Linked DNA regions of Homo sapiens: regions 1, 2 and 3 are each reported to be linked to region 4. Evidence: microRNA targets listed by miRTarBase, many of them from high-throughput screens and not tested one by one. Region 4 holds a microRNA gene; each other region holds the end of a gene's coding sequence.

Region 1 (3,247 bases), not on the chromosome of region 4:
ATGAGAAAACTGTATCCCACTTAATTTATGTGTCTAAAGTGTTAGCCAGGTGTTTCAATTAGGGATTCACCTAGGCTAGAATAATTGTTAGGTAGTAAAGCATATACACTTGGCTATATAAACAATGTACCTAAATACCAAATTCGATTATTTAAATTATAATCTATGCTGGAATTCTTGGAAATACATGTAGCTCCTCACTAAATTGTGACATGTTGTGAGCAACATGTCAATCTTGGTCATGGATATATGAAGCACTACATTCTCTGCAATCATTTCCAGCAGTGCTCCGATTAAAGCCCCACAGTACAGAGTCTGACTTTTCAATTATCTCCTCAGTACATCTATCTCACTTTGGCAAGAGCAAATGGCTCGCTATGATTCAACCCCATTTAAACATGGCGGTGAGCAAAAAATTTCAGAAATGAAGGGGGAAAAATTCTACCTAAATAAAGTGAGGGAAGATGAAATTAAAACAAACATGTTTTCCAAAAAGACTAGTAGGGAAACATTTAGGGAAAAACAAAAATAAAATTACTGAGGTCAAGAACTTAGTTTCCTCCAAATAACATTTAAGGAACTGATGAAAAAAATTACAAAGCACTGTAAAAATAAATGGTGGAGGGCAGCAGAATTTCACTTGCTTAATCTTTTTAAAGTGCCAGAATTCACACTAAGCAAAACTAGAGCTTTTAAATTTAGGAAGTCTTATTTAGCAAGCTCAAGTTCTTCCTTGTCAATCTTCTGATTTGCACCTGTCTCCACAAAAGATTTAACAGGCTATATTAGTGATATTAACATTTTATGTTCTTGTGTCACTCAGGGGAATCGTTTTATGAAACTGTTGAAGTATGTAAGCAAACTGTATTTACTTGACTGGATAGCCACTTGGTTATTCTGCAGCTACACAAGTTGGTACTTGCTGAATTATATAGCATACCTTTCACAAGTAAAGGTACAGATCAAATTGCTTAAGAAATCACTGTTGACTGCTTTGGGATGCTAGGAAAGCCAAGGAGCCCATGATTCAAGCCTAGAACTAGCAAAAATATATTTCTATCCATCCCCAAAATAAGTAAAACCATGTACTAAAGACAGAATAAAGTGGGACCTCAATGTTTCATTCCTATACATGGTACTTTTTGAAAGTGCAGGTTAATTTCTTCTTTGGTGAGGCCTAATCTTGCTACTCAGGGACATACTTGATTCCATAAAGCTATTCACTCTTAAGAGCCACTGGATCGACCGACACTTCTTAATATGAATCTGCTTTAGCATGGTGGCAGTCAGCTTCATACAACATGCTTTTTGAGCAAATGTAAGCACTAGCCAGATGTAGGTTTCCCACATTGCATTCCACAGCACATCATCAGAAGACATGTACCTCTATCTCTCACACAAAAAATTTGACCCATGGAAAAGTCCATCTGCCATACCTTGTTTTTTAATGAAAAAATATCTGAACCATTCACAAAGTCTGGTCTATGTGCTTAATGAAATGCCTGTCAGTTGTATACCACTGGACAACCACAAACCATTTCTCTTCAAAATAACAATATCCACAAGCAGATATAGAGAGACAATGTGTATAAAAATAAATGAAAGCAAAGCTCTGGAAACTCAGCCTCCTCTCTCAAATGAAAATACTACAGAGATAGCACAAGATAAACGGGAGCCCTGGTTCTGCAGAGCTCTTCTGGACGAAAGAGTCATTTTCTCCTAAAATTGCTATTAAGATATTATTCACTACTAGATCCCTCCTGCTGGTCACTTTTAGAATGGCTCTTAAAAAGGTTCTGAACTATTGTCTCCTCAGTTTAAGGTTTCTGTGACTCAAAGTCAGATGCTATTGTAATATCTACTATAAAATATATCATTATAGAAATATTATATACCAATCTCAGATAGGTGCTTGGGTCAATCTCAGGTTTCATTTTTAGTTCTATGGCCAAGAGTGCAAACTTGAGACCTCAGTTCTGCCTACTGTTTAATGTAACACAAGACAAGTCAATACAGACACAGATATCACCTTAACATACATCAACTGTCCTAGAGAACTATACACTTGTTAAGAATGAAGTAAAGAGGTGAACAAGTGACACCATTTACACGCAGTTGTGTGATGGGAGGCAAAGTGAAATAGGAAGGGAAAAGGCAGGCCAAATGACCAACAGCAACAACATTCAAAATACTTGTAGTGCTGAATCTGTTAATAGTGCTTATTTCCCCCAATTAAAAAAAAAAGAAATAAAAATCTGAAAAGGGTAAACTGCCTAATTTTTCTTTTATACTCATTAATTCTTAAAAGATAAAGTAAGAAAAAATATATATATATATATATTTAACTGGAAAGTATACCAATTTCACTTTATTAGCCTAATTTAGGAATAGGATGAGGAGAGCGGGGTTGAGGTCAGGCATGAAGGAAGAGGGTAAAAACTTGTGATGGTTAAGATCCCTTCAGAACTCTGGTGCAGTCCTCAATCACTGCAGCTTTACTGTCAGTCAGTGGAGCTGCAATCCAAAAGACGGAAAATCGACTCCTGTTTTCCATTTCTGTGTCCAGTGACTCTTCAGTTACAGTGTGATGAGGTCTACCAGGTTGCCTTTAGGAGGAGTCATGCTGTCAGGAAAGAAATTTACTAAGGTGTCAAAGAGCTGAGTTCTTTGAGCATAGGTGTGATCCACATCAGAAAAGCCTGGTGAAGAAGATACAAAGAAACATCCATTGTGTTTAAAACATGTAACAGAAAAACTAGTTGAGACCAGCAGCAATGTATTTTATAATGGAGAAATCAAATCAGGCTTCAAAACCAGGCAGACACTACTGATCTGACCCCAGTTCTACTACCTGGCTGTGGTGTGATCTTAGATAAATTAGTCAGACTTTCTGGCTTTCAGACTTTGCTTCCTCAGCTGTAAGTATGTGATAATCCTGTTTACTTCATACAGTTATTGTGCAGATTAAATGTAGTTACATGAAAAGCGTCTAGCAGAAGGACTGGCACTTTAGTTACAAATAATACTGATCTCTCTTTTTTTCCTTATTAGGTCTTTTCTCTGCTGGTCCACTGAGGAAATTCCACTTGTCTTTTCTGACTTGTTAATGCTTCTGAACCACTAAAAAAGTTTTTTAGTAACAAAAATATAATAAAATCAAAATGAAAGAGGTCTTTAGAAATTAGTCTAAAATCATTAATGTCTCTGAGACAGCTGGAAGTAGTCTCAGGGAACTGAGTGGTAACAG
Region 2 (3,247 bases), not on the chromosome of region 4:
TTCGCGCCTGAAATCCAGCTGCTTGGGAGGCTGAGGCAGGAATCGCTTGAATCCGGGAGGCGAAGGTTGCAGTGAGCCAAGATCGTGCCATTTGCGCTCCAGCCTGGGCAACAAGAGTGAAACTCCATCTCAAAAAAACAGAAACAAACAAATAAAAAAACTAAGAGACGAAACTGAAATAGGAATAATCAAAGTGATTTTTTTTTAATTACGCTTTGAAATTCTGCTTTAAAATTAACTTTGAGTATATGTAAATGATAACCAGAAAATTCTTTTCAAATAGAATGTTAAAGTAGCATATTACTGTTGAAAGTGGTGTATTACTGTTGAATTATTTTAAAGCTCTGATATTAAAATGTCCATCATTTATAACCATTTTTTTATACCTCTTTTATTTCAGGGATGGGGAAAGACACCATAGTCATAAAAGAAGAAAGCAAAAAATATAAATGAAGTACTTGTACCTATATTAATTATGCTTACGCCATGATAACCAATATACAGATATATTAATTGGAATTCCTTTGCATAGGAGAATGTTTTTATGATCTGTTTAGTGCTTATTATTTTTTTTATGATCTGTTTAGTGCTTATTATTTTCCAGTAAATATGCTTCAAACCATGAGTACACTATTAGGCCCTACAACTTTGTTTTCCTTATATTTTATTAGATGATTTGCTTCCTATAACTGATGTTGTTTTGTTCGTTTTGCTAATATATGTATCTCAAAATTCTTTAAGTCAATATTTATCATATGTAAATTAAACATGAATACATTCTCATCTTATAACTACATCTTATAAATAAGGCTAATAACCCTTAGAACACCACCTGCGGTTCTGTCCTCACCCCAGTGGTGACTACTGTTTACCACTACACTGGTGAATTGTAGTAGGGAAAAACAATCTAAATATTGAAGAGGAATGGCCTAATTAAAATATGATGTAGTCATAGGATAGATTATTGTATTGGAGTTAAAAGAAATAATCTAGATCCATATTAACCTGGATTGGTCTCAAAAACATAATGCTCAGTGAAAATAGCAAGTTGTAGAAAGTTATATACAAATTATATATATGTACAAAACAATACTATGCATTCTCTATGGCTATATAATGTACGTAAATCTATTTTTAAAGGTTCAGAGGAATCCATACCAAAGTTCTAACAGCGAGTAGGAGGTATAGATGAGAGATTAGGGGTGCAAATCAGGATTGGGAGGGTGGTCAGAGGGAACTTTAGCTTTATCCATAACATTAATTTTTTTAAAAAATAAGGTCTTAATGTTTCATTTAATTTAAAATATACTGTCATGTTGTGTTTTGTAAATCAACTGAATTGAGGTACTATTTACTTAGATTTATTGCACCCTTTTTACGTGTGTATTTTATTGGGTTTTGACAGATTCATACCTCTGTGCAGCCACTATCACGATCAAGATACAAATATTTTCATTGCCCCCAAAATTCTCATACCCCCTTTCCCAATCAATTCCTCTACCCCTAGCCCTAGGCAGCCACAGATTTGCTTTTGGTTACCGATTAGATCTATCCATTGTAGAATTCATGTAAATAGAATACTGTAGTATGTACTTTGCCTTCTTCCTCTCTGCAGATTTTTGAGATTGATCCCTGTGTGTCAGTTGTGCATTTTTTTTGTTGCTGAGTAGTATGTTCTATCTTATGTCAGATCATTCACGTGAGACTTTGGCATGAAATGTTAAGCATCCGACATCTAAATAGCAATATTTTGAATACTGGAAACTCAGGTTAAAGATTTTGTTTCCAAGTAGAAATGAAATCTTATTATTTTAATAAGTAGCTGACAGTGACAGAAAGATTGGATTTGGATCAGATTGGCTGTTAGGCTTCAGGTATGGGAAACAGCTCTCAGATTTATAAATTGGAAATCACCAGGTTACTTGCCAATATATAGTCATATTGCTGCCATTGTACTTAATTTCTAAATATATAAAATCCACATTTAAAAATTATAAAAGCAAGGACTTGGGAGTGACTGATGAATCATGAAATTGCTGCTTTTATAGATCAAAACTACTTGAATCATCAGGAATTTCATATTTTTCATATTGTGTGACAACTTATAATTTTGTTTCAAATTGTGATTTCATTGATTTTACTAACTGGAAGGAAGAAGAGTAAAATTGGCATATTTAGGTTTTTTGTAGAAGAAAGATACAAGTGAAAATTAGGAGTGGATTGGAGAAATTGGGGGGAAATAGAAGAGTACGGAGAAAGGAAGAGATTGAAAATGTTACCAGAGTTCTTTAAAGCTCACATTTTATAGTATCACTGCTACAAACTATTTAATGAAATGTGGCATCGGGTGAAAAGAGGCATTTGTTTGATCCTTGAACGAATTAATCTCACGTACTTCCCTGTTTGTGGTTTGAGCCTTTCACTGGATGTGAGCTACTTGAGAGCAGGGTTTATGCCTTCATCAGCGTGACCCCTGTGCCTGCAGCCTCATAGGTGTTAATCTGTAATTTTAAATTTTGACAAAAGCATTTTCACAGCCCTGCCACATAAGATCTAGTTTTTATTTCTAGAGTGCTGCTATGAATAATTACTATAGCTGCTGTCCATCTTGCCCATCCATTAAGGTACCTTCTCACAAACATTTCTAATCTACTGGCTGGAGTGCAGTGGTGCAGTCTGTAGCTCACTGCAGCCTCAAACTCCTAGGCTCAGGCGATCCTCTTGCCCTGGCCTCCCATGTAGCTGCAACTATAGGTGTGTGCCACTACACCTGGCTAATGTTTTTAGTTTTTTAGAGATGGAGTCTTGCTCTGTTGCCTAGGCTGGTCTTGAACTCCTGGGCTCAGATGATCCTCCTGTCCTCAGCCTCCCAAAATGCTGGGAGCCACCAGGCACCAGGTGTGATCTACCACACCTGTCTAAAAAGTATGTATTTTTAAATTTTTTTGTAGAGACAGGATCTCACTATGTTCTCCAGCTGGTCTCAAGCTCCTGGCCTCGGCCTCCTAAAGTGCTGGGATTACAAGTGTGAGCCACTGTGCCTAGTCACTTTAATTGAGATATTGGCAAGTCAACTGCCATGCAGAGCCCAGGGCACTGGTTATATTCAGTAGGAAACTGAACTCAGCACTCAGAATTTTAAATTAAATCAATGATCTTCAAGTATTTGCCACTTTCGAGTACAGCTAATTGGATAATCTCAAACCCTTTAGTGAAAATATCTTAAATGCATTGAGAATATTTTCTA
Region 3 (3,247 bases), not on the chromosome of region 4:
CCCGTCTCAGCCTCTCAAAGTGCTGGGATTACAGGCGTGAGCCACCGCGCTTGGCTGTTCTCTTTCATAACTTTGACTTATAGACTGTCAGTGATCCCACCAAGTTCAGTCATTTCTGATATAACAGAGCATGCCCAGTAACCTAATTTAAGGGCCACAGCACATATTCAGGCTTTGTTGAGATAGTAAGGAGGTTCTTAGCAGGTACTTGTATAACTATTTAAAATGTAACCATTTTATTTTTATTTTTTTTTAGATGGAATTCCCTCTGTCGCCCAGGCTGGAGTGCAGTGGTGCAATCTTGGTTCACTGCAACCTCTGCCTCCTTGGTTCAAGTGATTCTCCTGCCTCAGTCTCCCAAGTAGCTGGGATTACAGGCACACGCCACCACGCCAGGCTAATTTTTGTATTTTTAGTAGAGACAGGGTTTCACCATGTTGGCCAGGCTGGTCTCAAACTCCTGGCCTCAAGTGATCCGCCCCCCTCAGCCTCCCAAAGTGCTGGGATTACAGGTTTGAGCTACCTGCCCTGTCTTAAAATATAACCATTTTAAAATGTAATAGCTACTCTAGCTTGAGGCAGTAAACAGCAGGGCCAACTTTGTTACCTCCTGATGTGATGTTTCTCACGGACTAAACTATACACAAGCAAGTGCACTATGCTGGAATTGCCTTTAATCTATCAATCGGATTGGAATAAACTTTACATTCTACAACGAGCATACAACAGAACTGACTAGATACATCCATGTGGTGCAGCAACATGGCTGTGTCCTCCAGCAGAGCACACAAAGCTTTTCTTAAAAATGGGCTGTAATGAGCTTTACATCCTACTGCATAGCATCCTCTATGCTTGTAATTCTGCTATACCCTGTGTCTGGCCAGCTCTTAGATTCAGATATTCCCTGACTGCACTTACTAAATGACATTAAAGAAAAATTTATAATGTTTGCTTTTTAAAACATTTAAATACATTCAAGTAATCATTTAGTTGATTTCACAGTTGGGTGGCAACTCAAGCTAAAAATTCTCACTAAATAACATTCTAGCAAGCCTTGGCATAACTAAAGAAACACTGAGCACACAGGGTTGAAGTTAAAATTTTATTTATGGCTGGAGTGGCATAAAAGATTTGTTTTCCATGCTTCAAAAAGAAAAAAAAAGTTTTCAGGGCTTCTCTCCCTCCCTATGCATCCTACCCTTCTGTTTCCTGTTCTTAACTTTATCTGTACCTATGGGAGTCATCAATGGGGAGTGTCACAGGGCTTGGCAAGAAATGTCACATTGAAGATAAGTGGCCTCAAACTGAAACCAAGCAGGGCTGTTTGTTTCCAAAGAGAACCCTCCACTGTAGGGCCGCTCATGCACCGCCACAGAAGCCTCTGCCGGGTCACAGTCAGAGAAGCTCCCCGGGCACCGGCAGCACACTCAGCACAGCCGTTTCATGTGGGTGAACCTGAGAAGGTTTAAAGTGTTGCAGGCCCTTTTCAAGTTTTGCCTCCCTCACTCTCTGCAAACTCCCTTAATGTGGGCCATGGAAGAGAATTTTAAGAGACAATAACAGAAAGACTGGATATTACCCCAGAGAATAAAGACTTGCAAAGCCTGGAACTTATAATGTTTGAAACCTGGTCTCTCGAACTTGAGCTATCCCGGTTGTCAGTCCCACAGTGGCCGTGCACAATGTTGGCCTGGACTGAAAAGGGCCTCTGGCTCCTCCGATTTCAGTTCTTAGCAATATCAGACCTGTGTTTCTTTGGAACAGAAGTTACTAAAACAACCTAATTCCAAAGAAGCCCTTTTGATCCAGCTGTTCTCCCTAAAAACATTTTCGCTAGCGGATTCATTCTTTACTATTTAACAGTGGACCTTTAAAACGTACCTTTAAAATGCTTTCTATAGTAACATGTTTCCACATACAAATTATAAAATGTGTTTATTTTGCTGGGCGCAGTGGCTCATGCCTGTAATCCTAGCACTTTGGGAGGCCAAGGCGGGTGGATCACCTGAGGTCAAGAGTTCGAGACCATCCTGGCCAACATGGTGAAACTCCAACTCTACTAAAAATAAAAAAATTAGCTGGGCATGGTGGTGGACGCCTGTAATCCCAGCTACTCGGGAGGCTGAGGCAGGAGAATCACTTGAGCCCAGGCGGTGGTGGCTGCAGTGAGCTTGAGATCGTACCACTGCACTCTGTCCTGGGTGACAGAGTGAGACTCTGACTCAAAAAAAAAAAGTGTCTATTTCGTATTTTCTCTTTGGCAGCTACTGTTGCTTGGACAGTCTTTACTCTTCCCCTTTTATTACGAAAAATACCACCTTGACAAAAGAGAGCCTGTCAGATGGGAACGGGAACACCAGGTCCATCCCTTCCCACGGATTCTGGTCCCTGAGGTAGCTATCCATCAGTCCTTGCAAAGTCCACCTGAAATGTGTCCGCGTCACCCTCCTGCATAGTTCAACACACAGGGGAGCCCTCTCACCCAGCCTTGAGGGCCACATGCCCATGTGGCTCTCTTGGTGTATGTGACGGTTTCGCAATCAGAGATCCACGTGGAGTTCTCCATACATTCCTCTTCGTTTGGGCACTGTGGTTACAGAAGGCTAGTTTTCAAGTTGCAGGTTTTACTGTAAAGATTTCAAGACCCTCCAGCATCATCTGTTTAAATAAAAGAATGAAATGCCCAAGGGTTAAAGTCCAGCTAAAAGAAGTTATTTGCAATAGATTTCTATTTCAGAAACTGCTTTACAATTGTTCTTATGTACGGAAGACTTTGAAAACCCCTCCACAATGGAAACAGTAGCCACTGTCTGGAAATGACCTTGTGTAATTATCAGTACTATCAGGGGATCAAGCAAATGATGACATTACATTTGCAACGATCTGTGGGAATCTCAATCCATGAACATGGATGCTCTTTTATTTCTTAGTGGACTGAGGATGGGGCAATTTCAACAAACATACAGTGAGAGCCTGTTGGAGGTATGGAGAAGAATAAGCCTGTCGATTCCTCTGGGATCCCCAGGCTTGGCTTCTCTCACCCACATGCAGGACAGGCCAGGGCTTTCTGTACAACAGAGGCCAGGAGCTTCGCCCTAAGGAGACATGACTGGGTGGGGAGAGCCGGGGCTGCAGGTGCAGGTGATGGCGTCTAGGAGCACAGATCTCACAGGTATTGAAGAAAACCCCTGCCCAATGCTCCACAGCAAGGTCTACCAGGCAGTAGGCCCTACCCGCGATGTGCACA
Region 4 (3,000 bases):
CTCTGGTTACACTAGAATTTTGCTTGTAAAAATAGTTGCATGTTAAAAAAAAAAAAAGAAAGAAAGAAAAAAGTGCCAATAACTACAACTCAATCTTGTTACCTCACTGTAATATTAGCTATGCCTAGACTAAGTCAAGCGGGAGGTTAAAGTTCCTTAATAAAACAGAAAAGAAAAAGAAACAGCTGAGGTTAAGGGGAAAAGGTGGCATCTAGTTCATAAGAAGTCATGTACCTTTTTTTTTTTTTTTTTTTTTTTTTTTGAGATGGAGTTTCACTCTTGTTGCCCAGGCTGGAGTGCAAAGGTGCAATCTCCGCTCACTGCAATCTCTGCCTCCCGGGTTCAAGTGATTCTCCTGCCTCAGCCTCCCAAGTAGCTGGGATTTAAGTGCCCACAGCTTTTTCTAATTATAATAAACAGTATGTTATACTAATCTACACGTTAATATTTATACCAAGAATTCCCTATAAACCCAATTTATCTTCAAATAAAGTGTATAAATTCCATTGTTTCATAACTTAGCACAGATCTTCAAACCCACAATGATGTTACTGTGAGAACAATATACTATCAAATGTACACTTAACCATAAATATTGTTGCATTCCCCATAAGGAGCCTAAGTGGATAGTAATTCAAGTTGCAATTACCAATAAGAGGCCCAAACTGATTTGTTTATATGTATCACAGATATTTTCGTTTCAAACAAAATGAAATGCTTCTTTTTAAGTCTCAACAGCAAATATAACCATTATGCCCACCCACAGATGACATTGCCTAGAAATAGCAGTAATGCATCACTACAGCAAGGCACTAGATGACTACAAAAACACTGTAGTGTATATTAAAATCATCTCAGAACAACCAATAAAATAAAATTTTCATGCAAGGAGATCATGGAAGACCTTACTGAGAATATAATATTTCAGCAGAGACTCAAGAGGGAAAAGAAATAAGAAAACCTGTATATATTCAGGAGAAAAGCATTCTAATGATAGAAAACTGCAGTGCAAAAATCCTATGAGGTAGGTGCATGTTCAGCATGTTTGAGGAATAGCAAGGAGGTCAGTATCACAAAATGGAGTGGGCAAGAGGGAAAGTGGCAGCAGATGGGAGTCAGACGGGGAGCCAAATGTTCAACAGTGATGTGCTGAAGCCGATATTGACTGGGGAGCAGATTGCTGTACATTCTAGAACTTTGAATCAGCCAGAGTGGGAGTAATTATACCAGTAAAACAGGCAAATGCTACAAATCAGAACCTTTTCCCCCTCCAGAGAGCCAGTTTATTGTCACTACCTGTAGGCCCCTTGAAGAACTTTGTCTTTTACTGAGTGAGATCAGAAGCTACTGAATAAGTCTCCTTCTGCCTGATGTCATCATTCCCACTGCTGAATTACGACCAGAGGTAAGAAAGAACAAAAGCAGGGAGACTAATTAGAAAGCTGTTAATATAATCTAGGTGAGATACATTGTTAGCATGAACCAAAGAGCCAGTGGTGAAACAGTGAGAAGTAATCAACTCACTGTCTCACCACTGGCTCTTTCATTCAGGCTCTGGATATAAAGAACTATTCTTACTTGGATCAGTATGTAGCAACAATTACTAAGCTTCCTGTCTAGAAATCAGTATCTAACTCTAACCTAAACATGTCATTCCTGGTTCTGAATTAAGACTGTTAGTTGGATGTATAAAGTACTTCAAGAAGCTCAAATAACCAGGAGTCTTAGATGCACGTTACATATCTTCAGCTATTAAGGGTTCTATTATCATTTCAATTGATCAACATATACATTTGTTGAACATCTATTATAAGACACTGCAGAGAATACAAGTAAAATCTGTAATCCAAGCCCTTTCCTCAAGGAGGTTACAATCTGAAGTTTAAACTAAAGCATCCGTATATAAAAAGATAGATTCAACACAATGGAAGTATAAAATGTGTGGCAGGGCTAAGGAGTATTCTATAAATTGGAAAGGAGAAGGAAGAAGTCACTGAACAGATAGGACTTGAGCTGTGCCTTGAAGGATGGATAGAGTGAGATGATGAGAAAGGAACAAACGGAACAAGTCAGGGCCTAATAGTCAGTGGATCTGCAAAGTGAAAGGGCTAAGAAAAAGGTGGGAATGCACTTGGTGATTAAGGAGTAATCTATTCATGGCATTCAGGAGCATGGGGAGACAGAGGTTACAACTGGGAAGTATGCAGACATATACCTGAATTCCTAATTCCATCACTTACTAGCTTGAGCAAGTTACATAGAACCTTCCTGTCTTTATTTCTTCAGCAGTAGAAATTATAGTACCTACTTTATAGGACTGGTGCACAGAATAAATGAAATAAAATCATGTATGTATGGCATGTCACACAACCTGAAAGTTAGTAAGCAGTCACTGGTTATCAGAAACATTATTGGCCAGGCACAGTGACTCATGCCTGTAATCCCAGGCCATAGTGGAAGGATTGCTTGAGGCTAGGAGTGCAAGACCAGCTGGGCAACCTAGTGAGACCTTGTCTCTCCAAAAAAAAAAATTTAATTAGATGGGCGTAGTATTTTGCACCTGTAATCAGTCCCAGTTACTCAGGAGGCTGAAGTGGGAGGGTCACTTGAGGCCAGGAGCTCAAGACCAGCCTGTGCCACACGGCAAGACTCCCATCTCAATCAATCAACTAATCAATCAATAAAAATGATTGGGAAGTGGCAATGGTTAATGGGCACAAAATAATTAAAAGAATGAATAAGACCTAGAATTGTATAGCACAACAGGGTGACTATAGCCAATAATAATTTAATTGTATATTTTAAAATAACTAAGAGAATATAATTGTATGTTTGTAATATAAAGGATAAATGCCTGAGGTGATTTATCCTCAAGTCACTGGAAAAACCAAAAGTGACAATAAGAAAAATCACAAAAAGAGCTCTGTTTGGGAAGAAAATTCTACATTCTGGTTATGTTAAGTGATACCTTAAAGCCAAAAGAACATGTAAAATACACAC

Evidence for each region. Region 4 holds the annotated microRNA hsa-miR-4676-5p (GAGCCAGUGGUGAGACAGUGA, at 1,521-1,541, opposite strand). A microRNA usually pairs through its seed, bases 2 to 8, with sites in the 3' UTR of a target mRNA and lowers its output. Matches are read on the target gene's strand: a 7mer-m8 pairs with bases 2 to 8, a 7mer-A1 pairs with bases 2 to 7 and ends in A, and an 8mer does both.
Region 1: the mRNA of MKLN1 is a reported target of hsa-miR-4676-5p. Seed matches in the 3' UTR shown: 7mer-A1 at 1,327-1,333 and 7mer-A1 at 43-49.
Region 2: miRTarBase lists SNRNP48 as a target of hsa-miR-4676-5p. Seed matches in the 3' UTR shown: 7mer-m8 at 2,652-2,658 and 7mer-A1 at 2,771-2,777.
Region 3: miRTarBase lists FAM118A as a target of hsa-miR-4676-5p. The part of its 3' UTR that is shown has no 7-base or 8-base seed match.

Annotation. Positions count from the first base shown.
Region 1 is chr7:131,487,059-131,490,305 of GRCh38, reverse strand. It overlaps MKLN1 (muskelin 1), which reads right to left. Exons shown (of 18, transcript NM_013255.5): 18 at 1-2,699. The coding sequence ends at 2,578. Among named protein-coding and RNA genes, the nearest start is that of PODXL, 68 kb to the left of the region's middle.
Region 2 is chr6:7,608,425-7,611,671 of GRCh38, forward strand. It overlaps SNRNP48 (small nuclear ribonucleoprotein U11/U12 subunit 48), which reads left to right. Exons shown (of 9, transcript NM_152551.4): 9 at 401-3,247. The coding sequence ends at 449. Among named protein-coding and RNA genes, the nearest start is that of SNRNP48, 20 kb to the left of the region's middle.
Region 3 is chr22:45,339,797-45,343,043 of GRCh38, reverse strand. It overlaps FAM118A (family with sequence similarity 118 member A), which reads right to left. Exons shown (of 9, transcript NM_017911.4): 9 at 1,089-2,658. The coding sequence ends at 2,639. Among named protein-coding and RNA genes, the nearest start is that of FAM118A, 31 kb to the right of the region's middle.
Region 4 is chr10:72,719,579-72,722,578 of GRCh38, reverse strand. It overlaps MIR4676 (microRNA 4676), which reads right to left and starts at 1,550; the gene lies at 1,479-1,550. All of the region lies in intron 1 of MCU (mitochondrial calcium uniporter), which reads right to left.